Homo sapiens: one gene and its partners. The protein of the gene in region 2 interacts with the protein of the main gene of each other region in a biochemical or structural test. Each region holds a gene or a part of one and is shown on either strand. Other genes may lie near its edges.

Region 1 (4,224 bases), on a different chromosome or scaffold from region 2:
CTTTCTTCCCCTCTCACAAGCAAAAGACTGATTATTCATTACCTATCCATTGATCTAATTTTTAAAACTTTTAGTTATCTATTCCCCATTGGGCATGTGATAAAGTTTTCAGTTTGTACTATAATATTTTTTAACAGAAAAGAAAAAATAATTGAGGTCTCCATCTTTGTCTCTTTCCATATCAGATCTTCTAAATGGAGGTAGATGAGTAAAAGGTGTAGAGCAGATTTGAGATGCATTTTATAAGAAAACCACCTGGGAAATTTCCCAAACAAGACAAGTCCCAGACTCTAATCACATCATGGAAATAACATGCTTCAGTAACTTTGAAGCAAACCTACAGTGTAGTAGGCAGATATCTAGATTACATTATTCCTCTCTTCCACTGACTAGCTGTGTGACACCAGTCATATCACCTGACTTCTCTGTGGCAAGTTTCTTCCTTTGAAAGAAGGGGATGATAATAATAGAACCTCATGAAGTTTGTTTAAGGATTAAGGAGGTTAACATATATGTGTTGAATAGTAAACACCAGGGGAATATTACTTATTACAATCAATATGAAATAAAGAAAATTATGTTTGTTAGATAATGAGCAGCAAGTTGAAAATATTCTTATGGCTATGGTCAAGAGAAATCGGATGCTGTCGGTTCTACTAGCTATGATAATGTTCTTAGATTAAGAGAAAAGAATTATCTTCTAGAAAAAATTAAGCATCATGTTTATATCTTATCAATGGAAGAAACTGATTACAGACACAAATTTACTACTTCTTCATGCTCCGTACTGGTCAGTGAATACTGGATTACAGCACTTACTATGCAGTCCCTCTATCTGTATGATTCTTTGATTAAGGTTTTCACTTCTTGAAAGCAGAAGTTGTATCAAAATTCTTTGAGTCTTAAATGTATACTAATGCTTCACATACAGTGGTACTCAATATATGTTGAATGTATGAGGAATGAATTTATAAAAATAAATGCATGGATTTGACAGCTTTCAAAGAAAGAATGGAATTCATATAGAGTAGGTTTAACATTTAAAATGTAAAGTGTTTTCAGAAACTTCCTTCAAAACTTAAATCTACTTCTTAAAAACAAAAATCTACTTCTCAGCAGCCTTTTCGATGTGATTAGGTTCAAAGGACTGCACGGTTTTCTGTGTTTCTACTTCAACTTGACAGAAAATATTTAATTTTTCTTAAATAAGTGAAAGAGATTTATACTTGTATTACTTCTTGACTAATATATCATAATATCTTTTTAAGAAAGAAAAGTAGAAAGCCTACTTGGTAGGAATTTTCATTTATTTATATACACATAATGGTTTTATTAGTTGGAATTGTTTTTTAAAGTTAAGATTTGTTTTAAATAAATTAAGATGAGGAAAATGTTTTGCTTCTGAAATCTTGAAGGTATTTCAGAGTACATGTTGTATTGTCCATGCTTGTCTTCCAAAATTAACTACATATAGCAAGATTGGCACATCTTTTGTGGGTATGGTATATTTTTAATCTAGGCATCACATTGATTTGAGCTATATAATTATTTTGAAATGTTAGTGCTTATGAACTATTACATGATTTTATATCTCAGAAAGAATATGATATGTGTATATAATTATTTCTTACCCTATTCGAGTCAATTCTTGCTCTGGAAGTATAGATGGGAGGTGGGATGTTGAAAGCCTGAGGGACCAAGTACTCCTCAGCATCCATCATATCTTCCAAATCCTCTTCATCCAAGAGATTCTGAAAGAACTTGCTGTCATTTGGACTGGGAAGCTTCATACGATCATCACCCTAAAAGAAAGATTGCCCATCAGACACAAATATGATTCTTTCTTATCTTAAATATGTGGTCTCTGCAATAAATTTATGTAATATCATAACAAATGGTTGAAAAATTCATACACACATTTTAAAAAAACAAGTCTTTAGCACAACCACCGGCCATTAAGAAACCTATAACATGCTTAGAAATGATAGGGCCAGGTAAACAAACTTTATACAAGGAGAATATGATAAATGCCATTAGAGAATAATAAAGCAAAATCAAAAGATGTTTTTAGGGAGGTAAAATCAATTTCAGGTCTGAAAATAATTGTTCATTGCCCAGATAGTGTATGGGTTGCAACTTTAAGAATAAACAATAAAAGGTGATCAATTTATCAACGTTTATTTGGTTGGTTTGATGCTGTAGGATTATCAGGACCATAGGGTCTATACTTTATTCTATAGCATACTGACTGCATTATCAAAGTAGGGGCATTCAAAACTCACAGTGCAAGTGGCAAATAGAGTAAAGGAGTATGAGAAAGACACCAAAACCTTTGTTATGCTCTTCCTCACCTCGTCTATTTCTTAAGTATTTTTCCTATATTTTTAAAGTTACATAATTTTTGGAAACAATTTCAGTTCATGAAAACTAATTTTGGGGAAAAAATAAATGGAAATAAGTATCTTCTAAAACCTAGCTTTTATCTTTATGTCAGACTGTCGATATGAAAATAAAGGCTACCTTGCTTTACTGAGGAAACATAATACACTCTAGTCCAAGGCCCATTTGTTTAGAGTTTAGGTGAAATTAATCCTAGAGAAATATATTATTATTTTTTAATTATCCAAGTCTATCTATTTTTCTAGTGTTAAATATAAAATATTTCTTTGGTTGGTTGATTAAAATGTGCATCAATTCATTTGAATTGAGTTATTGCTTAGATACTGCATATCTCTCCAAATAAAACAAAACATATTTTAAAATATTTTTGGGGAAATTAAATAATATACTGAAACTTTTGATTCACTGTCTTCAAGCATGGGCAAGATTAAAACAAAAATCTGTCTTCCTTTTGTTCCGAAAAAAGAAAATTATACTAATGAACATGACTTACACATAATGTTAATAAAATCAAGGTGCTAAAATAAGTGTCTGAGGATTAAGACCTCTTTATGTATATGTATAATCATAATTATCTGTTCAGTAGCAGAGCCACTTGAATACTAAGGGAAGGTGCTAAAAGGTGGATCTGACGTGAAATAAAAAGCTCTTTTCCATAAGTCATGTCACATGATAATTCTGCTTAATTAATCAACATGTTTGTGGTCCTTTCCACAGTTCCAAAGTCCTGATACTACTCATTTTGCAGTGAGTTTGCCATTGGCCTAGTCTTAAAGGCATAAGTCAAATGTACTCACCTGAATAACTAGGTATCTTTGAGGGTCTCGAGCCATCCTTGAAAACTCAGCAGCCAGTTCCTTAAATTTAGGTCTACTGTCAGCATCAATCATCCAACCTGGAAATTTACACAGTGAAAATGTCACTATATTCGTAACTAGAAAGGAGTTGAAATTTAAATTTTGTGAAAATATGAGCAAAAGTTTGAAAAATGTTGTTTTAATCGTAATGATCTGAGAAAGAAAGCAAGCTAGTGAAAGAAACGACTCAATTGGTAAGGCTTTATCGGTCTCTTTGTTGATATTCATAACTAAATGTAATGTACTGTAAAACAAAAGATAAATTTTTTCTCTGATGTGTATAGACGTGACTGCAATATAAGTTATTATTTTGTATTAGGAGTGACATAGGAGAGAAGATTTGGTTACAATGCTTACACTGGCACAAACGGGAAAAGAGGAATTAAAAGCAACTTTCTTGTGCTACATTTGTCCTGGTGGACAAAAAAAAAAAAAAAAAAACTAATGCAAAGTGATTGGTAATGCCTGTTCAGCAATAGACATTAGCTTATCTTAGTACTAGCTTGTCTAGTATAAAAATACTATCAGCAATTTTCAAGGTATGTATTCTTATTTAGCTGGGAGTCTAGATAAAGCAGACCTTATCTCTACAGGCTCTGTTTAGCTAATGAGATGACAAGAATAAAAGTATCAAGCTTTCCTTGATTTTCTTGCCAAATTATCCTCTTCTTAGGTATTAAAACCCCGAAAGAAAGGTAAAATTCTCCATTAGGGAAAGTGTTTTCTTGGTTTTACATAATTAATTTCATCAGAGCTAAATTCTGATGAGTTTAAATCATTTCCTATGCTAGTTACAGGATTAAATTATATAAGACATGCATGTTTTTAAACTTTCTTCCATAGATGTCTACCAAACAATATTTAATAGAATAAGGCTGTAAAGCTTGTTCCTTCCTTTTCCGGGAGTTCAGTTTTTATTCCTATTCTGGGAATTTTTTGGGTGTCATTTTATGTATCATTAATGTCA
Region 2 (4,224 bases):
CACAGGAAGATTGGGGATGAGGGCTGGCTTCCTGGTGAAGTGTGTGTAGGTGTGTCCATGTATGTATGTGTGTATGCATGTGCATGTGTGTGCATGTATTGTGTATGTGTATATATGTGTATACCTGTGTGCACATGTATATATGTGTACATGTGTATGCATGTGTGTGTGTGCATGTATATGTGCATGTGTGTATGGGCATGTATATGTATACGTGTGTGTGTATGTGTTGTGTTTTAGGTACTATCCTATCATTCCGACAGCCCTTGGCACACTGCAGACACGGAATTAAATGTTGAATGAGGAAATCAGATGCTTTTAGGAAACAATAAAACCTTTGTCGAAAGCTTTTGGGACAGGTTAGGGATCCAGTCATAAAGGCTTGATGGCTGAAGCACGTCACAAAAGCCCAGAGTACAAACCTTGAGAGAAGTATGGTGGCAGGGAGGCACTCTGTGGAAAACTGCTGTTACTGAGGAGACAGAAAAAGAACAAAATTTATTTGGATTGGGGTGATGGGGCCAGACAGGGGAGCTGGGTTAGGGAAGCCAGGCTGCAAATGCTTCTTGATTTGGTATCACTTTCCCTGCTGCCCCCAAAACCATGGGGGCTGGGCACAGGGACAGAACACAGCACACAGGGAATGGAACTACATTCCGCTGTGGACCATGCCAAAGTCTAACAAGCTTTATAAAGCAGAACAGCAACAACATTCAACTGTGTAAAGGGCACTTAACAGTTACTTTAAAAATTGGCTGCAACTTGAGCTCTTTGAGTTGGGAGAATACAGAAGTCCTCTTCTCAGAAGACTTCCCTTTTGCTAGGAAATTATATTAATGGGCTTGTCTTTGGTGAGCAGTGAATCCCCAGGGCTTAGGGTCTGCAAGGAGAGAGTAAGCCAGGTGAGAAGGGAAGTGCATGTTAGGTGGGCTCTGCAGCAGACGGTGATAGCATTTGCAGGGCTGGGGTGGGGAGGCGGGCCCAGAGGGCCCTGAAATGCAGTCTGTTCCCTCCACACTGAGCAGCAACTCCTGCACCCATCAGTCTAAACCTTTGGGAAAAGTCTGCTCTGCACAGCAACCTTGTGTGAGTGGGATTTTGTGCAAATGAAGGATGGGGTTGGGGCTAGCATGGAGGAAAGCAGCAGGAGGGTCAGCAGACAAGGGCAGCAGATGCCAGCGGGAAGAGGGAGAAGAGCAGCAGAAACTCAGGGCCAGAGGGTCCCAGGGCAGAGGAAACATTGTGAGAATCCTGCTAGGAGTTGGTGGGGGTAGATGAGTCTTGTGGGTGGTTGAGTTTTCTACAATATTAGGGAAGGATCTTGGCTTCTCTCCTTGAATATTAAGGGAGAAGGTAAGCCTACAGGGCTGGAGGACTTGGGGGACACCACAGGCTGCCCGTGGGCTTGTTTGGGGACAATGACTGGGCCTTTCTCCTGTTCATGCATCTGCCCCTGGGCGGCCTCATACCAGCCCTGAGAAACACAGCTGCTACTGAGAAAACAGGGGGACAGAGACTGCAATGAATTCCTAGCATCAGCCAAGCACGAGGCGCATTTTCTCAGTCTCCCCAACTAAGATGCAGATGAACTTCAAGTACTTAGACTAACTGGGTTTCTTAATTATTGTTGTTTGTTTGAACTCATAAAGTGAAAATATTCTTTGTTTTCTACCAAAAGGCCCATTCTATCTGGAGGGATCAAGGAGGAAGTCAATTCCTCACCCCTCTCACCTCAAGCAGAGACTCAGAGGACACTGGTGGATTAACATATCGTTCTTAATGCTCAGTTTGGTTTTATGTCTTAAGACCCAAAATGTTCAGACCCTACTATCTACCCGTCATTTCCTTCTTTCTCAATCTGCCTGGCATTACTTCAGTACTGGATGGACCTAAACATTATATTAAGCTAGAATTTCATGACAGAGCTACAAACCTTTCTGAGAATGCTCCAGGCATGTGAGAGGATGGGAGAGGGTTCATGGGACTTGGCTTAGTAGATCTTGAAGGGAAAGTGTTGGAGCTCATAGGAAGTAGTGCTGGCTGGGGCAAAGGTCTCTGATGCACTGTGCAGAAGTAGAAAACAATGAATGAGATTGGCAGGCCCCAGCTGTCACTAAGAAACATTCCATAACCGCCCCCCAGTTAGAAACAGCTAGTATAAAGAGGACACAAAAATAAAGCAGATCAGATGTAATTAGGAAGTAGTAGGATGGAACCTTGCTCCCAGGGTGTTTCTAGATGACTTAACCACCATAGAATCCATTTACAAAGGGGCGCAGATCTAGATGATACTCTAAAATACACATTGATTTTGTTTTTCATTTTTGAAATGTTAACTTGGCAGAAAATTGTCAGCTGGAAACCTTATAAATTTCAGAAATGATTTACAAGTTTTGTTTTATGAAAGTCAAAATTTTATGCTATCTCATTCATTGGCAGTTACTGATTCTTTACCCACGTGTGTTAGAAGACATAAATGTGAGAAATGTTTCCATCAAACCATGCATGCAATTTTACATTTTGTGATACAATTAAATAATCTGCACTGTTACACATGAATTTAGTCTTCTTCGGTAATCTAACCAAGTAATCCATTTTACGATAGTTATGCAGTATGCCAATTGACATAAGTCTACTTAATACTAATTTAAGACTTATAATTGATTCTATGGGGTTCCTGTACTAAACAATTCCACTTGAATGCCTGAGCAGGAAAATGAAAGAATGAGTTATAGGCTGTAAGAATGTGTTTCCGAACATACCATCATCTTCATCCTGGGAAGGGGAAGAAAAAAAAAGATATTAAGCTATCATCAAAATACAATTCTTAAAATAAAAACTGCATTTCTCAATCAAATAAATCAAATAGGTATCTGTTTCTTTCTCTGGCAGTTATACATCTTCATAATAAATATACTGTGGAGAATAATAGAAGTTGCTAAGTGTTTTACAATTTCTTAATACAAACAGTCATCTAAGGGCATTCCAGTATGAGACTCTCCTCATATACTCAGCATGAAATAGATTCTGAGGTGCCTAAAAGGGCCCAAAGATGTAATAATATTGACAATATCTACAATGTGTCCAAAAGATTCATACACAAGATTTCATTCAGTTCCCCTAGTGACCCCCCAAAAATTTAACATCCTCATTTTACAAAAGCATGATGCTGAGGAAGCTTCCTTAGCTTGCCAGGAGTTGCAGAGATGGATTCAACCCCAAATATGTCTGACCAAAGCTCAGTCTTCTTTTTGGCTCTCTTTTGCAATGGCCACTCTTCTTAAGATCAATAAGACCATATTTATACGGTGGCTTACAAGGTTCATCTACAACCCTCACCATTTTTATCTTCAGAGCAACCTTGGGAAATTAGACAAGGGAGGGGCTATTTTCTCTTCCACTCAGATAAGAAATGAGGTTCAAAGAGAAAAAATGATGTTGCCACCAACTAGTAGACCAAAAGGGCCAGCTTGAACTTGTTTGGTTAGGCCAGATCTGTAATGATGAAACAGCATCTTTCTCAAAGTGTTGTTAGAAGGATTAAATTAGCTACTACTTGTGTCTGGCTTATGTTAAGTGCTCTTTAATAAAAGTTTGCCATCATCAATCCTATCACACACTGAGAGAAGGCGAAAAAGGCCACAGTCAAAATCATTCATCCCAGTTGGCCAACTGGGAGTCCCAGCAAAGAGCTGCATAAATAAACACACATGGGCTCATAAACCCCACACAACAAAATCACTTTTCAATACTTTTGCAAGTATATTCCCTCTGGTTCCAGAAAACACAACTCCCAGATTCTCATGAGCACAAGTGTCAATCCTTCCAGAGACAGGGAACCTGGAATGTGATGTTATCCTCACTGTCCAGCCTTACCTCTGCCTTGTTCCTATCTCTGCAGCCAAGCCACTGTTCTCACTGTCCCTGCAGCCTCCGTGGGCACTGGTATCCACCTGCTCAGGACACTCCTGAGGGGAATCCCCATGGGCTTTCTTTAAGAATGACTCTATTCTGTGTCCTCCCTATCATTGAATGACCAGCATAAATCTCACCTCCTCTAGGAAGTCACTGCTGGCTCCTTGAGCCACATGGCACACTTTCTTCCCTCAGCCCCACAGAGCATCCCGTGATTGCATGCTGTCTGGCATGAGGGGTTGTGAGTGTGCCTGCCTCCATAAGATCTCAGCACTTCATCGGAACAAGCACAGCATCTAGCACAGAGCT
Region 3 (4,224 bases), on a different chromosome or scaffold from region 2:
CGTGACAAGGGTAGCTTCTGAAAAAAAATTAAAAATATTCACTGCTCCCAGCAGCCTGGAGGACAGCATATTTTGTTCTCTTGTAAGTAGGAACACTAAGATGGAGGGATAAACATTTATTGAGAACTATTAGATGCCAAGCACCGTACTCTGGGGATACAAAGATATTAAGATACCGTCCCACAGCATTAGCACATATAAACACAAAATCATCTAAGTACCTTTTCTAAAACTCAAAAAAAATGCAGAATTATAAAACACATCTGGCTCTAAGACATATTTAACAGAAAAAGAATTACGGACCTGCACCAACTATCGTTTTATTTTTGAAGATCACTGACAGTTATTATCAATCTAAAACATATAATATTATTGACTATGATATATTATTATATACTATTAACATGCACAATCAATATCCTTTGTTAATTCCCTAGAAACGTGAATAAAAAGTATGACATCCATCCCAGTGATCTCAATTTTAAAAAGAGTGTTTGAAACAAGGAGGTGGGTCCAACCCTTCCAAGACTAATGGAGCTTAACTTACGGATGTGGTTTCATTTCTATGTAGTTCTTGGGAATGAAGCCGTCTTTTCCATTAAGCTCTGCCTTGTACCAGTTCTGATCACATTCTTCGTTCAAAACCTGAAAAGAAATAAGACAACAAAAAAACCCAATCATTTCCTTTTCCCTTTAAAAAGATAGTTACAAGACAATTATGCTATCTTTTAGGTCTGTGAACGGTTTCACTCGAAGTATTATCAGTTATACGGATATAAGACTCCTTTTAACTTCAAACAACCAGCATTATGTTAAACTCTGTTAAAATGAAACAGAAATTATCTCTGAAAATGAAAATTCAGGCTCCCAAACATCTGGAATGAAACCCTCAGTAAGGAAGGAGAAAGAAGAATGGCAAGTATTAGTTGTTTTTTTTTTTTAAGACGGAGTCTTGCTCTGTCGCCCAGGCTGAAGTGCAGTGGCGCGATCTTGGCTCACTGCAACCTCCACCTCCTGGGTTCAGGCGATTCTCCTGCCACAGCCTCCCGAGTAGCTGGGATTACAGGCGCATGCCACGTTGCCCAGCTAATTTTTGTATTTTTAGTAGAGATGGGGTTTCACCATGTTGGCCAGGCTGGTCTTGAACTCCTGGCCTCAGGTGATCTGCCCACCTTGGCCTCTCAAATTGCTGGGATTATAGGTGTGAGCCACTGTGCCCGGCCAGTTTTTTTGTTTGGTTTGGTTTTTCTAAGAGAGAAACCTGGAGAAGAGGTTCTGGAAAATGGCAAACACATAGGAGAATAAGGGAGCCTGACGAAGACAAAGTCTACTTTCTGGGAGAGAGAGGTGTCACAGCAGAACTAAGCAGCAACAGAACCTTTTATTAGACTCCTCTAGAGATCTTCCAACCGACCTCCAGAATCTACAGTGATACAGTCCTGGATCCCCTCATGGCTTCTCTGGGTTACCGCAAGTACGGGTCACCCACCAAACAGCTCCAGAACACTGCTGCTTGTGAGGACAACCATATGCCCTCGTATGGGAAAACTATTTTCAGGAAAAAGCATGGCAAATCCTACTCAGTTCAATAACCCAAATGCCACATTGTATTAAAGTTAGATAGTGCTGAAAGCATATCAACCAGCAGAATTCAGGCAGATGCCTTGGAAATCCTGGAACTGAACCACTGCATTCTACAGATGTAAAAAAACAAGATCAATGGTCAACCCAGGTTACGAGGTAGTGACCCCACAGAGCTAACATCATGCCCAGACTTTCATATTTCCAATGACCGTTCTCTCCAATGCTGCCTCTTGAATTGCATGTACCAGGCCATGCATAGGCTAGGCCATGACGCTGTAATGTGTAGAGTAATACAGTAGTCCTCCTTATCATGATGGATACGTTTCAAGACCTCCAGTGGGTGCCTGAAACCGTGGATAGTACAGGACTCTAGATATGCTATGCTTTTTCCTACACTATACACATACCTATACGTTTTATTTTTTTTTAGATTTATTTATTTATTTTTTTTTGAGACAGAGTCTCGCTCTGTCGCCCAGGCTGGAGTGCAGTGGCGCGATCTCGGCTCACTGCAAGCTCTGCCTCCCGGGTTCACGCCATTCTCTTGCCTCAGCCTCCCGAGTGGCTGGGACTACAGGCGCCTGCCACCACGCCCGGCTAATTTTTTGTATTTTTTAGTAGAGACGGGGTTTCACCATGTTAGCCAGGATGGTCTCGATCTCCTGACCTTGTGATCCACCCGACTCGGCCTCCCAAAGTGCTGGGATTACAGGCACGAGCCACCGTGCCCAGCCGATTTATTTATTTTGCCCAGGCTAGTCTTGAACTCCTGGACTCAAGGGATTCTCCTGCCTCAGCCTCCCAAAGTGCTGAGATTACAGGTGTGAGCCACCATGCCAGTCCTACCTATAAGTTTAATTTGTAAATTAGGCACAGTAAGAGATTAATGATGACTAGTAGTAAAATAGAAAAGTTTTAACAGGCCAGGTGTGCTGGCTCAAACCTGTAATCCTGGCAGTTTGGAAGGCTAAGGTGGGAAGACTGCTTTAGCCCAGGAGTTTAGGACCAGCCTGGGCAACATAGTGAGACCCTGTCTTTATATTTAAAAAGTGTAAAAGAAAAGTTATAACAATATACTGTAATAAAAATTTATGTGAATGTGTTATCTCTCAAAATATCTTTTTTTTTTTTTTTTGAGTCAGGGTCTTGCTCTGCTGCCCAGTCTGGAGTACAGTGACACCATCACGGCTCATGGCATCTCAACTTCCTGGGTTCAAGCTATCCTCCCATTTCAGCCTCCTGAGTACCTGGGACTATAGGCACTTGCCATGTTGCCCAGGCTGGTCTTGAACTCCTGCGCTCAAGTATCCTCCTGCCTCAGCTTACCTAAGTGTTGAGATTACAGGTGTGAGCCACTGCGATTGGCCAAAATATGTTATTTATATGTTGGATTGCAACTGGCCGCAGGTAAGGGGGGACTAGTATATACGGAGCAGAACAGAATCAGGTACAGCGTGAAAGCCACCCTATGAATTCTAGACTTACAACAAAAGGCAAAGGGCAGAAGGCATAAAGTTGGTAAAAGATAAAACAAAAATGTGAATACAACCCCAAAATGGTGGGCCCAGGAAAATGTTGGCTAGTACAGTGGTAATCTACACTGCATAACAAAGTTCTGAGAGGAAACTGGTAACATTCTTTACAAAATGATTTATTCAAGATGTTGAACAATGCTGTACTCGTAGCCAATCAGAAGCTGGATTGCTCTAAAGTGAGTGCTGTCTGTGTACTGCCATTCAAAGTGAGATGCAATAGAAAGGGTAGATAAGAATGACAGATGATCGACAACTAGCCAGGCTGCATTAATGACTACGCTTTCTTAACAGAGGGTATGCCCTGCAGAGCTTTGCAATGCTGGTGCTTATCTGCTATGCTTACCACACTCTGACTGCAGGTGCCAGACACTGGGTTTCAATGCTTAGGATAAGGTGATAAATCCTGAAAGAGCTAATAAATATGTGTAGCAAACTCTCAAAAAAAATTAGCTAGTGGTAAATCCCAGTGTATTCAAAGTTTCCAAGAGTCACATAAATATTGATAGAGTATTGATGAAAACTTTCTTCTAGTCATCATTTTGTTTCTCGTAAAAAAATCACATCAAAGACTGGAATGAGATAAAACAATATATGCAAGGTACACTCATAATTTTTAAGTCTTCATTTTAAAAACACTGCATTGTGCTGCAGCCAGCAATGGTGCTGTATTGATAGACAATTATAAAGCACACACCAAGGACAAGTTTGAGGAGGGAAAGTGCGCTTGAACCCTGCCGGGCCACCACCACCTGCCCCTGTACTGGCAGCACAGAAAACTCTGAATAGCCTTTGAGAAAAGGAGCTACTTTAAAAGTTATTTAAGGCCAGGATTCTGTTATCTACCAAAAATAAGGTCTAGAAGGAAAATGTGGTCTAATAATGACCTTATAAAGCATCATCCTATAGTAATAATAAAAACCCCACAGGCTTATAAACAATATTTATTATTTTATTTCAGAGACAGAGTCTACGTTGCTCAGGCTGGAGTAGCTGGGACTACAGGTGCGTGCACCCATACCAGCTATGAAGAGTTTTTGAAAATGTCTTAACTCCTGAAATGGTGAGGTGTGTCTACTTTTACTGTATACACTTGTTCTTGGAAGAC
Region 4 (4,224 bases), on a different chromosome or scaffold from region 2:
TGGTTGGGAGGAGAGGGTGCAAACAAGGAAGCATGGATGAGCCAAGGTCTGGCGTAAAACCCGCAGCCAGCAGACGTTTGCAGAGATGACCAGGGGCATCTCCAGTCTAGGCTTCCTGACCTGCCAATTCTCAGGACTCCTCTGGCCCAAGCAGGCAGGAAGTTGTCAGGACTCCCCGTTCCTCCTGGGACCCCCAGGATTTTCCTTCCCTCCCCTCTGCATCCACATGCCCACCTCACCCTTCGCAGCTTTCCTGGGCCCTCATCACCACTCCTCCCTTTACTCTGTTTCTCGCCCTGTTCCCATCCCTGGTTGTCCACATTGTCGCCACTTCTCATCTGTTCCCAGCGCCCCTGCTCTGCCTGGTGATTGCTGCTGTGGTGGCCTCAGCAGGGAGGGTGGGAGGGATGGAGGGAACGCCCCACTGTCGCTTCTCCCCATGCAGACTCCAGGCCCCTGCCTTTCGTCACTCCACCATTCTCCTGGTGCCAGTTGGGTGGTGAGGTGGGGCTGGGGAAGGGCTCCCACCGCCATTCCTCACTTCCTTCTAGAGCAGGGGTTCTTCTGCAGTGTGGCCTGGACCTCCACCCACAGCAGCAGCAGCACCTGGGAGCTCCTTAGAAATGCGAATTTTCCTGGGGGTGAGGCCCAGTAAAAGGCTCGCAAGCACCCCAGGTGATCCAGTTGTATGCTCGAGTGTGAGAGCCACTGGCCTAGAGCTTGGGTTCCCGCTGTTCTACTCAAGGTCAGCAGCAGCCCTGGGCGAGATAGGAAGAGAGTGGCAGGTGGATAAAAGGAAAAAGCTGGCTTCCATCCCCTGCCTTCTTCCTCATCCACCATATAATTCATTATTGCCCCAACCCATAGCCTCATTTATATGGATGTGAATGTCTGTGAGAGAGCGCGAGCACACACAGGAACGCATGCTTACCCGGACACTGGCACCCATGTACACACGCTCGCCCACCCAGCTCTCCTTAAGAGCTTTTCAGCTCCTAGATCTTATACAACTTGCGGATTCTTCATCTCATAGAAGCAAAGATTAGGAATAGTAGTTAGAGTCTAGATTATGGTAACTTCAGCTGTGATCGATTATGCTGTTATGGGCCCACCTGGGAGTCTTCCTTCCCCACACCCATGCCTGCCCATTTATAACATCATTTCTGGGATATTAGCACCTGCATTGCAAGTTCCTGGCAACCTAACACAGTGACCCATCTCACTGGGGGCTCATCAGACGTGAATGAGCTGCATTGGATGGAAACAGCTGACTTCCAATACACTTTTGGATCATTGCACAGCATGAACTATCTGCTGTGTATTACTGGCTTCCAATCAAGAGTCAGAGAATTTGTGAGGCCAACTAGCAAAGGTTTGTGTGCTGTTTACATCACAACTTTCCTTGTAGAATCCTGGAGCATGAGATAGCCTCTTGGAACGTGCAGGCTGTGAGAAGAACAGGGAGCAAATCACATTTGCAGTGATTTGGGCTGCAACCTGAGACAAGTTGGGTATTTAAAGAAATACATGAACACCAACTTGCTTTCTGACTACTCTTAGCTATAGCTGAGCCAGGCATATTGTTCTAGGTAGCATCTACACATTCTATCCCTGCAGAAAACCAACTATTGATGCCATTCTTCCCTCCAAATGTCCTAAGTTTATTTGTAAGAATAAGAAAGATTTGCAGAGCTGGGCACAGTGGCTCACGCCTGTAATCCCAGCACTTTGGGAGGCTGGGGTGGGCATATCGCTTGAGGCCAGGAGTTCGAGACCAGCCTGAGCAACATAGCAAGATCCCATCTCTTATGGGAGCAGCCAGACATAGTGGTGCATACCTGTAGTCCCACCGATTCCAGAGGCTGAGGCAGGAGGATCTCTTGGGCCCAGGAGTTTGAGACTTCAGTGAGCTATAATCATGCTACTGCACTCCAGCCTGGGCAACAAGGTGAGACCTCATCTTAAAAAATAAATAAATAAATAAATAAAAAGTTTGCAGAGCTAATTTTCAGCATATTATTGTTTCTGTGAACCTAGCAGCCAGAGGCTTTGCTGGTTCTAAAATAGTTTCAGAAATCAATAGCCTTATCTATCTCTGACCAGATTTAAGTCTGTTCCCTTCACATGACAAAGGGTGATGCCTTTCCACGTTTCTCATAGCATGGCACACCTTTACCAATAATGATTTACAGCACCTGTGTTGTAAGGATGAGGCTGCTGTGGTCTTTTTCAACCAGTTCCCTTCCTGCCTTGAGCTAAGGGAATTGATATCTCACAACCTGCCTATAGCCCTGTGTAGGTCACCAGGCAGGAAGCTCTGCACATGGCTTTGGAAGATTCCCAGTGCCCCTAAGATTCTGGGACAACAGTGTCTAATAGAACTTTCTGCAGTGCTGGAAGTGTTCTGTATCTCCTATTGGATATGGTATCCACTGGCCACATGTGGCTATTGAGCGCTTGAAATGTGACTAGTCAACAAGGAACTCAATTTAGTGTATTTTATTTTACTTAATTTAAATCTAAAAACAGTAGCTCCCCTTAATCTGTAGTTTTGATTTCTGCAGTTTCAGTTACCCACAGTCAACCACAATCCAAAAATAGGTGAGAACCATACAAGATATTTTGAGAGAAAGGAAGAGCACATTCACATAACTTTCATTATATTATATTGTTTTATTGTCAGTGGTTATTGTTAAATTACTGTACTTATAAATTAAACATCATCATAGGTATAACATATATGGATAGGAAAAGACATAGTCTATATAGGGTTCAGTACTACTCATGGTTTTAGGCATCCACTGGGGGTCTTGAAATGTACCCTCTGTAGATAAGGGGGGACTATTATAGGAGATTCTGTTTTCTGTTTCTGCTGTTTTAATTTTTTGAAAAAGCCATGGATCTTCTCCTCTGCTCTGCAGTCCAGATTCTTAGCAATGTGATGCATTTGTTTTTGTTTTTGTTTTTGTTTTCAGCCTTCAGACAAGGAGATGTTCAGCCGTTCAGTTACTAGCCTGGCAACAGATGCTCCTGCCAGCAGTGAGCAGAATGGGGCACTCACCAATGGGGACAGTAAGTTCTGCAAAAACACCAGCTTTCCACACAGGCCTCATCACCTCTGGAAGTCCTAGGTTTCAAAATACATAGCTCAAAAAGTAGGAAATGTGTTATTGCTCAGTTTTAGTATTCCTAGCAGTTTTAGCAGAACCCCTCATTTGGATGAATACTGCTACTTATTAATCCACTTCTGTGTGCCAGGCATTGTTCTAAGACTGGTACATGTACTAATTCATTTGCTCTTTTAGTACATTTTAGTACATTTACATGTACTAATTCATTTACCCCACGAGATTACTGTTATTAATAATAACACTACTCTGTAAGATAGGTATTATTACTCCTCACAATTTAAAGGTGACAAAACTGGGCACATTGCTGCTGTAACAATATTACCACAAACCTCATGCCTTAAAATAACAATTTATTGACTTGCAATTCTGAGGTCAGGAGTCTGAAATGGGTCTCACTGGGCTAAAATCAGGGCATCCGTAGGCCTGTGGTCCTTCCTGAAGCCTCAAGGAGAATCCATTGGCCTCTCCCTCATTCTTCACATCCCTCTCTGACCCTCCCCCCTCCCTATTCACTTATAGGGACCCTTGTGATTACACTGGGCCCACCTGGATAATCCAGGCTTCCCTCTCATCCGGGAGTCATCTAATTAACAGCCTTAATTCCACCTGTAGCCCTAATCCCTCCATACCCTCCACAAAACATTACACATTCACAAGTTCCAGGAATTAGGAGACAGACATTTTTCAGGGTCGTTCTGCCTTCCACAGAGATGTTGCTAATTTGCCTGATATCATATAGTCAGCGGGCTAAGGATCTGTAGTTGGAACCAGGCAGTCTGATCCCTGGGCACGCACTCAGTCACTCTGCATAACCTCTGCATCATGCATTGTGTACTCTTGCTGATGGAAGGAGCAGCTAGGTTTCCTTCATGCTTTAGAGTTTACACCATGCTTTTACCTGAGGTAAGAGGGCGTCCTGTTACCCCTGTTTACTGATGAGGAAACTGTGGGGTAATCAGGACACCAGTGCCTGTTCTCTGTCTACCATGATGTAGACAACTAGAACCAGAGAGCAAAAGTTCACCCCCTCCGTGATGATCAGGGATTTAGAACACACAGGGGTGTTGGTAAGTTCAGAAGGATTGGGGGATCC
Region 5 (4,224 bases), on a different chromosome or scaffold from region 2:
GACACCTCCTCGGCTATAATTTCGACAGGACAAGCACTGACCAGGGCCTGGGCCCCAGCATCCCCCAGAGGAGCACAGTGGGTCACACACTTTGCCCTCTGCCACTGGAAAGGAAGGGGTGGGTTAGGAGAGGAGTCTGAGGACTCCCAGCAAGCCCTCTCTTCATTATTCTTCCTCGTTACTGCTTCCAGCCTAACAGCCCCCTTCTCCTTGGTTCCATCCCTCAACCCTACTCCCACGTCTAGGGCAGAATAGTCCTTTCAGCCCTCTCCTCCCTGACTCCCTATTCTCACCACCTAGCAGACCCTTTCCCTCACCGCAGTCTCTGCGCGGCCGATTATGCTTGATGTCTAGTCGCTCTTCCGTAGGCCCCCGAAGCACCTTGGTCCAGTTCAAAGAGTGGTGGTAGCAGAGCTGCCTATTGGCACTTATATAGATACGCCCAGCACTAATTTCCTTCAGGGATCGGAAGCCCAGAGATGTGACATTCAAGTTCTTCATGATCAACAATGAGAAGCCCCGGCTGAGAATAAGGAGACAGGATGAGAGGAGAGACTACTAAGGGAACATTAACTATTCAAAGGATTCATGTTAGTCAAGAAATTTGCTCAGTGCTAGTCAGATCCACTGAGAGGGAATCCCCCTCCTTTTGCCTTTTCCTCGTGAAACTCTGAAACCCTTTGGTTTTGAGGCACTGCTGTATGAGACAGTGCCTTGTATTTTACTAAAGAATGCCTATGACACAGGCTTCATTGCCTGAAGATGCCATTTCCTCCATACCCTTTACTCACTTGTAGAGGCTTCTGCCTCCAATGGTTGTCAAATTGGAAAAAACACTGAAGTTGTGCATGTGGGGCGGCCAGGACTGGATGTTCAGGTAACCTGAGGGGTTGGAGAGAGGCATATGGGCAGGGAGCCTTCTTCTTTCTTGGGTTCTCCTGGCTCCTCCCCTATAACTTGGGACGTGATTTTCTCAAGTAGTTATACCGCAATTTATGCCAGTGGTTCACCTATTCTTCTAGAAAGGGCAAACTCTCTGCCACTCACCTGTGATCTCCCGTACTGTCCGGAAGACATTGAGCTTCTCTGGGTCCAGGGCAGGGATCTTGTGCCAGGGGTCTCTGAATAGAACAGTAGAAACCAGTCAATAAGGTAAAGGTATAACTCAATGGCAATGAGCACACCCAGCCTCAGCATTTGGTTTCTAAATATCATTCTCCACTAAAAGGAAACATTCCTTGGAGAAATGGCTGGGATGGGGGAAATATAATATAAGCCCAGAGCATCTTGTGCAAACAAGACAAGACTCAAAGAATTAAGGGTACAGCCCAAAGAACACAGGAGCCAACTTGGAGGGGCTGGCTAAAATAAATAATGATTGTAAAGGATTATAACCATTGACTAGAATAAAATAAGTATCCATAAGAGTAAATAGGAAAGGAAGACCTTTTTTTTTTTTTTTTTTTTTTTTTTTTTTTGAGACAGAGTCTTGCTCTATCGCCCAGGCTGGAGTACAGTGGCAGCAATCTCAGCTCACTGCAACCTCCACCTCCTGGGTTCAAGTGATTCTCCTGCCTCAGCTTCCTAAGTAGCTGGGAATACAGGAGCACACCACCATGCCTGGCTAATTTTTTGTATTTTTAGTAGAGACAGGGTTTCACCATGCTGGCCAGGCTGGTCTTGAACTCCTGACCTTGTGATCCGCCCGCCTCGGCCTCCCAAAGTGCTGGAATTACAGGCATGAGCCACTGCACCTGGCCTTTTTTTTTTTTTTTTTTTAAGAGACAGGGTCTCACTCTGTTGTGCAGAGTGAGTGCACTGGCTGGAGAGCAGTAGTGCCATCATAGCTCACTGTAACCTTGAACTCCTGGGCCCAAGCAATTTTCCCACTGGCTCCCAAAGGGCTGAGATTACAGGCATAAGCCACTGTGCTCAGCTGGAAAGACTCTTCCTAACAGTAGAATGCCAACAAACAAATGCAGAAGGAATAATGGAATTAGAAAATTATCATTTGGCAACTATCATAACAATAATTGATTCAGGCAATTATCCCAAGACATTCATTAATTGTGAATGGAAAAATAGTAACTTTACAGTAGAAAAACCTGACAGATATCACCTTAACTAAGTGACCAGAGACATCATTGTGAGTGCTGGGACAAATCAACATCACGTACATCCTCAATAGGATGCCCTGAGCTCACAGCCTCTGTGGTGTTCTTATCAAACTCCAGCCTGGCAGCGGCGCATGCCTATAATCCCAGCACTTTGGGAGGCTGAGACAGGAGGATCACTTGAGCTCATGAGTTCGAGACCATCCTGGACAACATGGTGCAACCCTGTCTCTATAGAGAATGGCTTGAACCTGAGAGGTGGAGGTTGCGTGAGCTGAGATCACGCCACTGCACTCCAGCCTGGGCAACAAGAGCGAGACTCCGTCTCAAAAAAAAAAAAAAATATATATATATATACACACACATATATAAATATATAAATAGTATATAATATTTATGTTTATATATATTTATATATATTATTTATATATATATATTTATATTTATATATATTATTTATATATATATATATATATATATATATATAAAATTAGCCAAGCATGGTGGCATGCACCTGTAATCCCAGCTACTCAGGGGGCTGAGGTGCTCGCTTGAGCACGGGAGGCAGAGGTTGCAGTGAGCTGAGATCATGCCACTGTATTCCAGCCTGGGCAATAGAGCCAGACCTTGTCTCAAAAAAAAACTACAAAAACTTGAATCTAATCATGAGGACACATCAAACTAATCCAAACTGAAGAACATGCTGCCCATTACCTAATCTATACTCATCAAGAATATCATGAAAGATAAACAAAACCTGAGGAGCTGTTATAAAGGAGATTGAAGTGCCACGATAACTGAATGTAATGTATGATCCCAAACCTTAGGAGGACAATTAGTGAAATCTGAATAAGGTCTGTAGCTTAGATAATATTTTGTGTTAATGTTAATTTTCCGATTCAAACAACTATGCTGTGGTTATGTAAGAAAATATTATTTTTAAGGAATATACGCTGAAATATAACAGGGGTAAGAAAGAACCATGTGTGAAAATTTACCCTCACGTGGTCCAGAAAAACAATAGCATGTGTTTTGTGTGTGTGTGTGTGTGTGTAGAGAGAGACAGAGAGAGAGAGAAGTGATAAAGCGTATGTGGTATTTTTTTTGGCGGGGGACAGAGTCTCGCTCTTTCACCAGGCTGGAGTGCAGTGCCGCGATCTCGGCTCACTGCAACCTCTGCCTGCCAGGTTCAAGCTATTCTCCTGCCTCAGCCTCCTGAGTAACTGGGACTACAGGCGCACACCACCACGCCCAGCTAATTTTTGTATTTTTAGTAGAGATGAGGTTTCACCATGTTGGCCAGGATGGTCTCAATCTCTTGACCTCGTGATCCACACCTAGTGATCCACCTGCCTCAGCCTCCCAAAGTGCTGGGATTATAGGCATGAGCCACTGTGCCCGGCCATATGTGGTATGTTAACATTTGGAGGATCTGGGTAAAAGAGTGTATGGGGGGCCAGACGCGGTGGCTCACACTTGTAATCCCAACACTTTGGGAAGCTGGGGCGGGTGGATCACTTGAGGTCAGGAGTTCGAGACCAGCCTGGCCTACATGGTGAAACCCTGTCTCTACTAAAAATACAAAAATTAGCCGGGCATGATGGCACACACCTATAATTCCAGCTACTCAGGAGACTGAGGCAGGAGAATTGCTTGAACCCGGGAGGCAGAGGAGGCGGAGGTTGCAGTGAGCCAAGATTGCACCACTGCACTCTAGCCTGGGGAACAGAGTGAGACTTTGTCTTAAAAAAAAAAAAAAAGTATATGGGGAATTTTATACCATTCTTGCAACTTTAGTGTAGATCTAAAATTATGTCAAAATAAAAAATTAAAGGAAAAAAAAAAACAGGTGGTCATAGTGGGTTTTTTTTACACACACACACACATTTTAAATGCTGTCCTATAGACTAGAAAGTCCCTTTGTTCTTTTTGCTCCAAGGAGCAGAATGAGTGAAAACAGCTAAAAGTCATGGGGAGACAGAATTTTCTTTTCTTTTCTTTTTTTTTTTTGAGAAAGAGTCTCGCTCTGTCGCCAGGCTGGAGTGCGGTGGTGTAATCTCGGTTCACTGCAATTTCCGCCTCCTGGGTTCAAGTGATTCTCGTGCCTCAG
Region 6 (4,224 bases), on a different chromosome or scaffold from region 2:
GTGATTGGGGTAGTGGATACATGAGCGAATCCATTTGTCAAAACTCATCAAACTGTGTGATAAGAGTCTGTGCATTTTATTTATTTCATTTTATTTTTTGAGATAGAGTCTCACTCTGTCAGCAGGCTGGAGTGCAGTGGTACGATCTTGGCTCACTGCAACCTCTGCCTCCTGGATTCAAGCAATTCTCCTGCCTCAGTCTCCTGAGTAGCTGGGACTACAGGTGTGTGCCACCATGCCCAGCTAATTTTTGTATTTTTAATAGAGATGGGGTTTCACCATGTTGGCAAGGATGGTCTCGATCTCTTGACGTCGTGATCCGCCCACCTCAGCCTCCCAAAGTGCTGGGATTACAGGCATGAGCCACCACACCCGGTGCATTTTATTGTATATAAGTTATACTTCAATAAGAAATGAATTGGGGCCAGGCACGGTGGCTCACGCCTGTAATCCCAGCACTTTGGGAGGCCGAGGCAGGCAGATCACTTGAGGTCAGGAGTTCAAGACCAGCCTGGCCAACATGGTGAAACCCCATCTCTACTAAAAAATATAAAAAATTAGCCAGGCTTCCTGGCATGCGCCTATCATCCCAGCTACTTGGGAGGCTGAGGCAGGAGAATTGCATGAACTCGGGAGGTGGAGGTTGTAGTGAGCTGAGATTTCGCTATTGCACTCCAGCCTGGGCGACAGAGTGAGACCCTGTCTCAAAAAGAAAAAAAAAAAAAAGGGTCAGGCGCCGTGGTGCACACCTGTAATCCCAGCACTTTGGGAGGCTGAAGCAGGAAGATTGCTTGAGCCCAGGAATTCAAGAACAGCGTGGGCAACATAGTGAGATCCCATCTCTACAAAAAAACACAAAAAATTAGCCGGGCATGGTGGTACGCACCTGTAGTCTCAGCTACTAGGGAGACTGAGGTGGGAGAATCACCTGAGCCTGGGAGGTGGAGGTTGCAGTGGGTTGAAATCATGTCACTGTACTCCAGCCTGGGTGACAGAATGAGACCCTGTCTCAAAAAAAAAAAAAAAAAAAAAATTCCCTTTCACACTTCCTTTACCTCCACTCCCCTTTCCAGAGGGGGCCATGGTTAACAGTGTGTGTGTTCACCTAGACCGTTTATGCATCTGTAGACACACACACAGTGAAGTGTGGTTTTCGTCGTTTTGGTGGGGAGGTTGGTTTCTGTAAATGGGAACATATAGGGAGCACTGTCTGCACCTTGCTTTGAGAGCCGGTCATGACAGTTCCCATTGAACTGCCTTGTTCTTTCAATAGCTGCAGAGCAGGTGGCGGCAAGGAGAGGCAGCTAAGAGCCCAGACTTGGGAGCCAGACTGCCTGGGTTTGAAACCCGGCTCTACCACTTACTAGGCATGTGACCCTTGTGCTGTGCCTCAGTTTCTTCATCTGTAAAGTGGGGGCAAGAACAGTCCCAACTTCATAAGATGGTTATACCACCATGCCTGGCCAGATGATTATAAAGTTTGAATGAGTTAATATTTGTAAAGCTCTTAGAACAGTGCCTGGCAGATACTAGGTGCTCCTAAATGTTGGTTTTTATTATGTGGCTGGGTGGCTCGGGGTTTTATTTAACAGCTCCCCTATTTACTAATAGACATTTAGATCATGTTCCATTTTCACTCTTACAAACAGTTCCACTTTGTGTGTGGCTCTGGGAACATGGGCCAGTGTCTCCCTAGGCCACATTCCTAGAAATAAGATTTCTTTTCTTTTTTTTTTTTTTTTGAGACAGAGTCTCGCTTTATCGCCAGGCTGGTGTGCAGTAGTGTGATCTCGGCTCACTGCAACCTCTGCCTCCCGGGTTCAAGTGATTCTCCTGCCTCAGCCTCTCGAGTAACTGGGACTATAGGCGCGCGGCACCACACCCAGCTAATTTTTGTATTTGTAGTAGAGATGGGGTTTCACCATGTTGGCCAGGATGGTCTCCATCTCTTGACTTCGTGATCCGCCCGCCTCGGCCTCCCAAAGTGCTGGGATTACAGGCGTGAGCCACTGAGCCCAGGCAGAAATAAGATTTCTAGATCAAAGGATATAAATACTGTTTTGATAGATGTTGCCGAACTAAGGCCTGGGCTTTGAAGCCCAGGATGGGAACAGCTGGGCTCGATGGGCAAAGGGTTTGAGTGAAGGCATTCATGGTGGGGAGTGGCTGGCATGGCCAGTGCTGGGAGTGATGTCCACCCTGTTCCTGGCCCTGCTGACTCCTCTCCTGACCCCTCCAGGGACCCAGCCTCCAACACTGCCCCGCTCCAGCCAGAGCAGCTCCAAGTGTTTGAGACTCTGGAAGAGATCACAGGTGGGCTCTGTCTCTGCATCCTGTTCTGCAGGGGCTGGGAGTCCTTGTCCTGTCCCCACTCCTTTAATCTCACCCTCTGCCTGCAGGTTACCTATACATCTCAGCATGGCCGGACAGCCTGCCTGACCTCAGCGTCTTCCAGAACCTGCAAGTAATCCGGGGACGAATTCTGCACAAGTGAGCACTGAGAAAGAGGGGGCCTGATGGGGAGGAGTCCCAGGGAGGAGTCCCTGTGGGAAGCTTTGGGCCTGAGGGAGTACTCCTGTAGCAGTAACCTTTCCATGAAAGTCTGCAGAGTGTGCTGGGGATGGAGGAAGATGAGAATAGCCTTTGCTGACCGGGAAGGGGTCCGTGGTAAGGTGCCCACCTTTCTCCCATAGTGGCGCCTACTCGCTGACCCTGCAAGGGCTGGGCATCAGCTGGCTGGGGCTGCGCTCACTGAGGGAACTGGGCAGTGGACTGGCCCTCATCCACCATAACACCCACCTCTGCTTCGTGCACACGGTGCCCTGGGACCAGCTCTTTCGGAACCCGCACCAAGCTCTGCTCCACACTGCCAACCGGCCAGAGGACGAGTGTGGTAAGACAGGGAGCCCAGTGTGCGCACTCCCCATCTGCCAGCACACAGCAGTGCCCAGGGGGCCCTGGCAGCAGCGTTCTTGGACTTGTGCAGACTGCCCGTCTCTGTGCACCCTTCTTGACTCAGCACAGCTCTGGCTGGCTTGGCCTCTTGGCATGGCTTCTCTAGCTGGGTCCTACCTGCCTTGGCATCCTTCCCTCCCCCTCTGTTTCTGAAATCTCAGAACTCTTCCTCTCCCTACATCGGCCCCACCTGTCCCCACCCCTCCAGCCCACAGCCATGCCCACAGCCAGTTCCCTGGTTCACTTGGACCTGGGGCCTCCCCTAAAAGTCCCCTGCGGTCCCTTCCTCCTCACTGCAGTGGGCGAGGGCCTGGCCTGCCACCAGCTGTGCGCCCGAGGGCACTGCTGGGGTCCAGGGCCCACCCAGTGTGTCAACTGCAGCCAGTTCCTTCGGGGCCAGGAGTGCGTGGAGGAATGCCGAGTACTGCAGGGGTATGAGGGGCGGAGGAGAGGGTGGCTGGAGGGGTGCATGGGGCTCCTCTCAGACCCCCTCACCACTGTCCCTTCTCTCAGGCTCCCCAGGGAGTATGTGAATGCCAGGCACTGTTTGCCGTGCCACCCTGAGTGTCAGCCCCAGAATGGCTCAGTGACCTGTTTTGGACCGGTGAGCTGCTGGCGGGCTCAGAGCTGGGTGGAGGGGGGCAGCGAGGGGGATTGCCAGGGACTTGGCAGGATGGCGAGATGCAGTAGGGTGTGCTATCTGGTAAAATATCCCTGGAGAGGGCTCAGCGCTCAGACCTGAACAGCAACAGAGTGGCAGAAAAGGGGCCTGGGGGACACTGGGGCCCTTCAGACTATGAAAAGGTTCTAAGGAGGTCTGTGTTGGTGGCTGTGACTGTGGCTGTGCTAGGGTGGTGAGCCCTGTGGGCTCAGGCGTCAGACTACCTGGATTCAGACCCAGCTCCTGCTTCCAACCTTGGTTTTTTATTCCTAAAATGGGTATTGTAATAATACCTACCTTGCTGGGGTGTGGCAAGAATGAAATTAAACAGGGCTTGGCACAGTGAAGCACGGGAAAGGCTTTCTACAGAGCAGTGACTGTTGTTACTCGCTGTTACACCTTAGGTAATGCGTTTTCCTCTCTGGGTGCCTCCCATTTTCTGGCTCAAGTCCCTGCCCAGGATCAAGCTTGGAGGAGGGCCCCGAGGGAGGGGCCACAGAGACTGGGTGAAGAGCAAGGGTGTTTGTCCCAGGAGCATGGCGAAAATTGCTGCTGGGTGGCCTTGGGAAGCACAAAGGGGACCCAACTAAGGGCCTGATCCTACTGCC
Region 7 (4,224 bases), on a different chromosome or scaffold from region 2:
GGGATTATAGGCGCCTGCCACCATGCCTGGCTAATTTTTTGTATTTTTAGTAGGGATGGGGTTTCACAGTGTTGGCCAGGCTAGTCTCGAACTCCTGACCTCGTGTGATCTGCCCGCCTCGGCCTCCCAAAGTTCTGGGATTACAGGTGTGAGCCACTGTGCTTGGCCAGCCCTTTTTTTTTTTTTTTTTTAAGATGGAGTCTCGCTCTGCTGGCCAGGCTGGAGTACAGTGGTGCGATCGCAGCTCACTGCAACCTCCACCTCCCAGATTCAAGCGATTCTGGTGCTTCAGCCTCTCAAGTAGCTGGGATTACAGGCATGTGCCACCATGCTTGGCTAATTTTTGGGGGCATTTTTAGTAGAGACGAGGTTTCACTATCTTGGTTAGGCTGGTCTCAAACTCCTGACCTCAGCCTCCCTCCCAAAGTGCTGGGATTACAGGCATGAGCCACTGCGCCCGGCCAATTTTTAAATTTTTTTTGGGCTGCGTGCAGTGGCTCACGCCTGTAATCCCAGCACTTTGGGAGGCCGAGGAGGGCAGATCACGAGGTCAGGAGATCGAGACCATCGTGGCTAACGTGGTGAAACCCCGTCTCTACTAAAAATACAAAAAATCAGCCGGGCGTGGTGGCGGGCGCCTGTAGTCCCAGCTACTCGGGAGGCTGAGGCAGGAGAATGGCGTGAACCTGGGAGGCGGAACTTGCAGTGAGCCAAGATCACGCCACTGCACTCCAGCCTGGGCGACAGAGCGAGACTCCGTCTCAAAAAAAAAATTTTTTTTTGTTGTTTTGTTTTGTAGAGGCAGGGTCTGGCTGTGTTGCCGAAGCTGGTCTTGAAATCCTGGCCTCAAGTAATCCTCTTGCCTTAGCCTCCCAAAATGCTGAGAATACAGGCCTGAGCCACTGCACCAGGCCCTTTTGCCCATTTTTGAATTCATGTTTTTTTCGTTTGTTAAGTGTTGAGAGTTCATTATTCCAGATAGTAACCTCTTAGCAAGTAAATGGTTTGTGAGTATTTTCTCCTCTTCTGTAGGTTGGCATTTTGTTGTTGTTGTTGTTTTTTGCTATTGTCTTTTTCTTTTTTTTTTTCCCCCGAGAGGAGAGTCTCGCTGTGTTTCCCAGGCTGGAGTGCAGTGGTGCAATCTCAGCTCACTGCAACCTCTGCCTCCCGGTTTCAAGCGATTCTCCTGCTTCAGCCTCCCAGGTAGCTGGGATTACAGACGCCCGCCACCATACCCAGCTAATTTTTGTATTTTTATGTAGAGATGGGTTTTCACAGTGTTGGCCAGGCTGGTCTTGGACACCTCACCTTAAGTGATCCAGCCACCTCGGCCTCCCAAAGTGCCGAGATTACAGGCGTGAGCCACTGCACCCAGCCTATTTTAAATTTTTACAGTAAATATTGCAGTAGCAAAATGGTTTTTTTGCTTTTTTTTTTTATTTTGACGGAGTCTCACTCTGCTGCTGTGGCTGGAGTACAGTGGCGTGATCTCAGCTCACTGAAAGCTCAGCCTCCTGGGTTCAGGCGATTCTCTCGCCTCAGCCTCCCAAGTAGCTGGTACTACAGGCACCCGCCACCACGCCCGGTTAATTTTTTGTATTTTTTTTTTTTTTTTTTTGAGACGGAGTCTCGCTATGTCCCCCAGGCTGGAGTGCAGTAGCGCGATCTCGGCTCACTGCAAGCTCTGCCTCCCGGGTTCACGCCATTCTCCTGCCTCAGCCTCCCGAGTAGCTGGGACTACAGGCGCCCGCCACCACGCCCGGCTAATTTTTGGTATTTTTAGTAGAGATGGGGTTTCACCGTGTTAGCCAGGATGGTCTCGATCTCCTGACCTCGTGATCCACCCGCCTCGGCCTCCCAAAGTGCTGGGATTACAGGTGTGAGCCACCGCGCCCGGCCTATTTTTTGTATTTTTAATAGAGATGGGGTTTCCCTGTGTTAGCCAGGATGGTCTCGATCTCCTGACCTCGTGATCTGCCCTCCTCGGCCTCCCAAAGTGCTGGGATTACAGGCGTGAGCCACCGCGCCCGGCCCCTTTTGGTTTTTGTATGTGTTTTTTTTTGGTTTGTTTGAGGACAACTGCTTAAGCAAAGTAGGGTTTTTAAGTGAAAGCCTTTCAAAGTTTGAGGAAAGGGGATTAACTGATACATTGGAACTTTAATGTTGACTATTATAGGCATGCTTCACTGCGCTTGACTGAATTTTTTTTTTTTTTTGCATTTTTAGTAGAGACAGGTTTTCACCATCTTGGTCAGGCTGGTCTCGAACTCCTGACCTCAGGTGATCCACCTGCCTCAGCCTCCCAGAGTGCTGGGATTACAGGCGTGAGCCACTGCGCCCAGCCAATGTAAAAACATTCTAAATGGCTAGTTGAGTTTGTCCAGATAGGGATCGTAACTGAAGAAGCTGTGGCTATTTAGCTAATACTGGTGGTTGCACCTTTCCTTGTCAGACTCCAGTCTAGCTGTCCCACGTGTAGCTCCAGTTTAAAGTCACTCGCATGCCTTTGCTCATGCTTCTGCTTAAACCTGAAGTGTGTTTTGTTTTCTCCTTATCCATTGAGATTAGTTCAAATTTGACTTTCCCTTTAATTGCTCCTCCTTCTGGGTCCCTGAAATACTTTATTTGGAATAGCACTTCATTCTTCTTCTTCTTTTGTTTTTGTGCTCTCTTGCCCAGGCTGGAGTGCATTGGCACAGTTTCACCTCACTGCAACCTCCGCCTCCCAGGTTCAAGGGATTCTTCTGCCTCAGCCTCCTGAGTAGCTGGGATTACAGGCATACGCCACCATGCCCGGCTAATTTTGTGTGTGTGTGTGTGTGTGTGTGTGTGTGTGTGTGTGTGTGTGTTTTTAGACGGAGTCTTGCTCTGTTGCCCAGGCTGGACTGCAGTGGCGTGATCTCGGCTCACTGCAGGCTCCGCCTCCTGGGTTCACACCATTCTCCTGCCTCATCCTCCCAAGTAGCTGGGACTACAGGCACCTGCCACTGCTCCCGGCTAATTTTTTTGTATTTTTAGTAGAGACGGGGTTTCACTGTGTTAGCCAGGATGGTCTCGATCTCCTAACCACGTGATCCGCCCGCTTCTGCCTCCCAAAGTGCTGGGATTACAGGCTTGAGCCACTGCACCCGGCCTAATTTTTTGTGTTTTTAATAGGTTTTGCCATGGTGGCCCGGCTGGTCTTGAACTCCTGGCCTCAAGTGATCTGCGCGCACGCATCAGCCACCCAAAGTGTGCTGATTACAGGCATGAGCCACCACAGCCAGCCTCCTCCTTGTAAAATAGTTATGTATTTGTCTACCCTCCATTTCTAAATTTTTAAGTTGATGTGGACTTAGATTATGTCTCTTTTTTTTCTATTGGTATATCGTATCGTTTGTTGGACATAGTACACAGTACTCAGTAAGTGTGGATTTTCTTTTAAAACTGTAAATGGCTTACATAATCACATTTCCATGGCGTCTGTGTTGCCTTTTATTTTCTTTGCTTCCCTGCCTCCATTAACGTGAAATTAAATTTTTTTAAACTTTGAGGTATTGTCCAAGATTTTCTTTTTGCATTAATACTTTGTTAAATATCTCAACCTTGTAATCCAGCACTTTGGGAGGCTGAGGCGGGCACATCACGAGGTCAGAAGATCAAGACCATCCTGGCTAACACGGTGAAACCCTGCCTCTGCTAAAAATATAAAAACAAATCAGCCGGGTGTGGTGGCGGGCGCCTGTAGTCCCGGCTACTCGGGAGGCTGAGGCAGGATAATGGTGTGAACCCAGGAGGCGGAGCTTGCATTTAGCCTACATCCCGCCACTGCACTCCAGCCTGGGTGATAGAGCGAGACCCCGTCCCCCAAAAAAAAAAAAAAAAAAAAAAAATTTTTTTTTTTTTTTTTTTTTTTTTTTTTTTTAAAAAATCTTGGGGGTGGTAGTGTGTACCGTTTGTCCCAGCCACTCAAGAGGCTAAGGTTCGGAAGATTGCTTGAACGCAGGAGTTCAAGTCCAGCCTGGGCAACATAACGAATCCCTTAAAAAAAAAAAAAAAAAAAAAAAAAAAAAAAAACTAGGCTGGGCGCGGTGGCTCACGCCTGTAATCCCAGCACTTTGGGATGCTGAGGCTGGTGGATCACGAGGTCAGGAGATCGAGACCATCCTGGCTAACACGGTGAAACCCCATCTCTACTAAAAATACAAAAAATTAGCCGGGTGTGGTGGCGGGCGCCTGTAGTCC

The links.
Region 1: the proteins of LCP2 (region 2) and ERBB4 form a complex in vitro, tested with the Homo sapiens proteins (one large-scale study listed by BioGRID).
Region 3: the proteins of LCP2 (region 2) and GRB2 form a complex in vitro, tested with the Homo sapiens proteins (4 studies listed by BioGRID and IntAct, with this or other methods).
Region 4: the proteins of LCP2 (region 2) and PAG1 form a complex in vitro, tested with the Homo sapiens proteins (one study listed by BioGRID).
Region 5: the proteins of LCP2 (region 2) and ERBB3 form a complex in vitro, tested with the Homo sapiens proteins (one large-scale study listed by BioGRID).
Region 6: the proteins of LCP2 (region 2) and ERBB2 form a complex in vitro, tested with the Homo sapiens proteins (one large-scale study listed by BioGRID).
Region 7: the proteins of LCP2 (region 2) and YWHAE form a complex in vitro, tested with the Homo sapiens proteins (one study listed by BioGRID).

Annotation. Positions count from the first base shown.
Region 1 is NC_000002.12:211,418,810-211,423,033, forward strand, and holds part of ERBB4 (receptor tyrosine-protein kinase erbB-4 isoform JM-a/CYT-1 precursor), read right to left. Parts: intron 3,296-4,224; coding exon 3,198-3,295; intron 1,803-3,197; coding exon 1,632-1,802; intron 1-1,631. UniProt on the Homo sapiens protein: Tyrosine-protein kinase that plays an essential role as cell surface receptor for neuregulins and EGF family members and regulates development of the heart, the central nervous system and the mammary gland, gene transcription, cell proliferation, differentiation, migration and apoptosis.
Region 2 is NC_000005.10:170,256,104-170,260,327, forward strand, and holds part of LCP2 (lymphocyte cytosolic protein 2), read right to left. Parts: intron 2,776-4,224; coding exon 2,763-2,775; intron 2,064-2,762; coding exon 1,934-2,063; intron 473-1,933; coding exon 423-472; intron 1-422. UniProt on the Homo sapiens protein: Adapter protein primarily involved in signaling pathways within T-cells, as well as other immune cells such as platelets, mast cells, and natural killer (NK) cells.
Region 3 is NC_000017.11:75,332,153-75,336,376, forward strand, and holds part of GRB2 (growth factor receptor-bound protein 2), read right to left. Parts: intron 646-4,224; coding exon 548-645; intron 1-547. UniProt on the Homo sapiens protein: Non-enzymatic adapter protein that plays a pivotal role in precisely regulated signaling cascades from cell surface receptors to cellular responses, including signaling transduction and gene expression.
Region 4 is NC_000008.11:80,986,218-80,990,441, reverse strand, and holds part of PAG1 (phosphoprotein associated with glycosphingolipid-enriched microdomains 1), read left to right. Parts: intron 1-1,175; exon of another isoform or gene 1,176-1,372; intron 1,373-2,975; coding exon 2,976-3,072; intron 3,073-4,224. UniProt on the Homo sapiens protein: Negatively regulates TCR (T-cell antigen receptor)-mediated signaling in T-cells and FCER1 (high affinity immunoglobulin epsilon receptor)-mediated signaling in mast cells.
Region 5 is NC_000012.12:56,089,644-56,093,867, reverse strand, and holds part of ERBB3 (receptor tyrosine-protein kinase erbB-3 isoform 1 precursor), read right to left. Parts: intron 1,122-4,224; coding exon 1,048-1,121; intron 883-1,047; coding exon 792-882; intron 524-791; coding exon 318-523; intron 105-317; coding exon 1-104. UniProt on the Homo sapiens protein: Tyrosine-protein kinase that plays an essential role as cell surface receptor for neuregulins.
Region 6 is NC_000017.11:39,713,047-39,717,270, forward strand, and holds part of ERBB2 (receptor tyrosine-protein kinase erbB-2 isoform a precursor), read left to right. Parts: intron 1-106; coding exon of another isoform or gene 107-223; intron 224-2,239; coding exon 2,240-2,313; intron 2,314-2,399; coding exon 2,400-2,490; intron 2,491-2,672; coding exon of another isoform or gene 2,673-2,693; coding exon 2,694-2,893; intron 2,894-3,224; coding exon of another isoform or gene 3,225-3,254; coding exon 3,255-3,387; intron 3,388-3,468; coding exon 3,469-3,559; intron 3,560-4,020; coding exon of another isoform or gene 4,021-4,122; intron 4,123-4,224. UniProt on the Homo sapiens protein: Protein tyrosine kinase that is part of several cell surface receptor complexes, but that apparently needs a coreceptor for ligand binding. Essential component of a neuregulin-receptor complex, although neuregulins do not interact with it alone.
Region 7 is NC_000017.11:1,354,797-1,359,020, reverse strand, and holds part of YWHAE (14-3-3 protein epsilon), read left to right. Parts: intron 1-4,224. UniProt on the Homo sapiens protein: Adapter protein implicated in the regulation of a large spectrum of both general and specialized signaling pathways. Binds to a large number of partners, usually by recognition of a phosphoserine or phosphothreonine motif.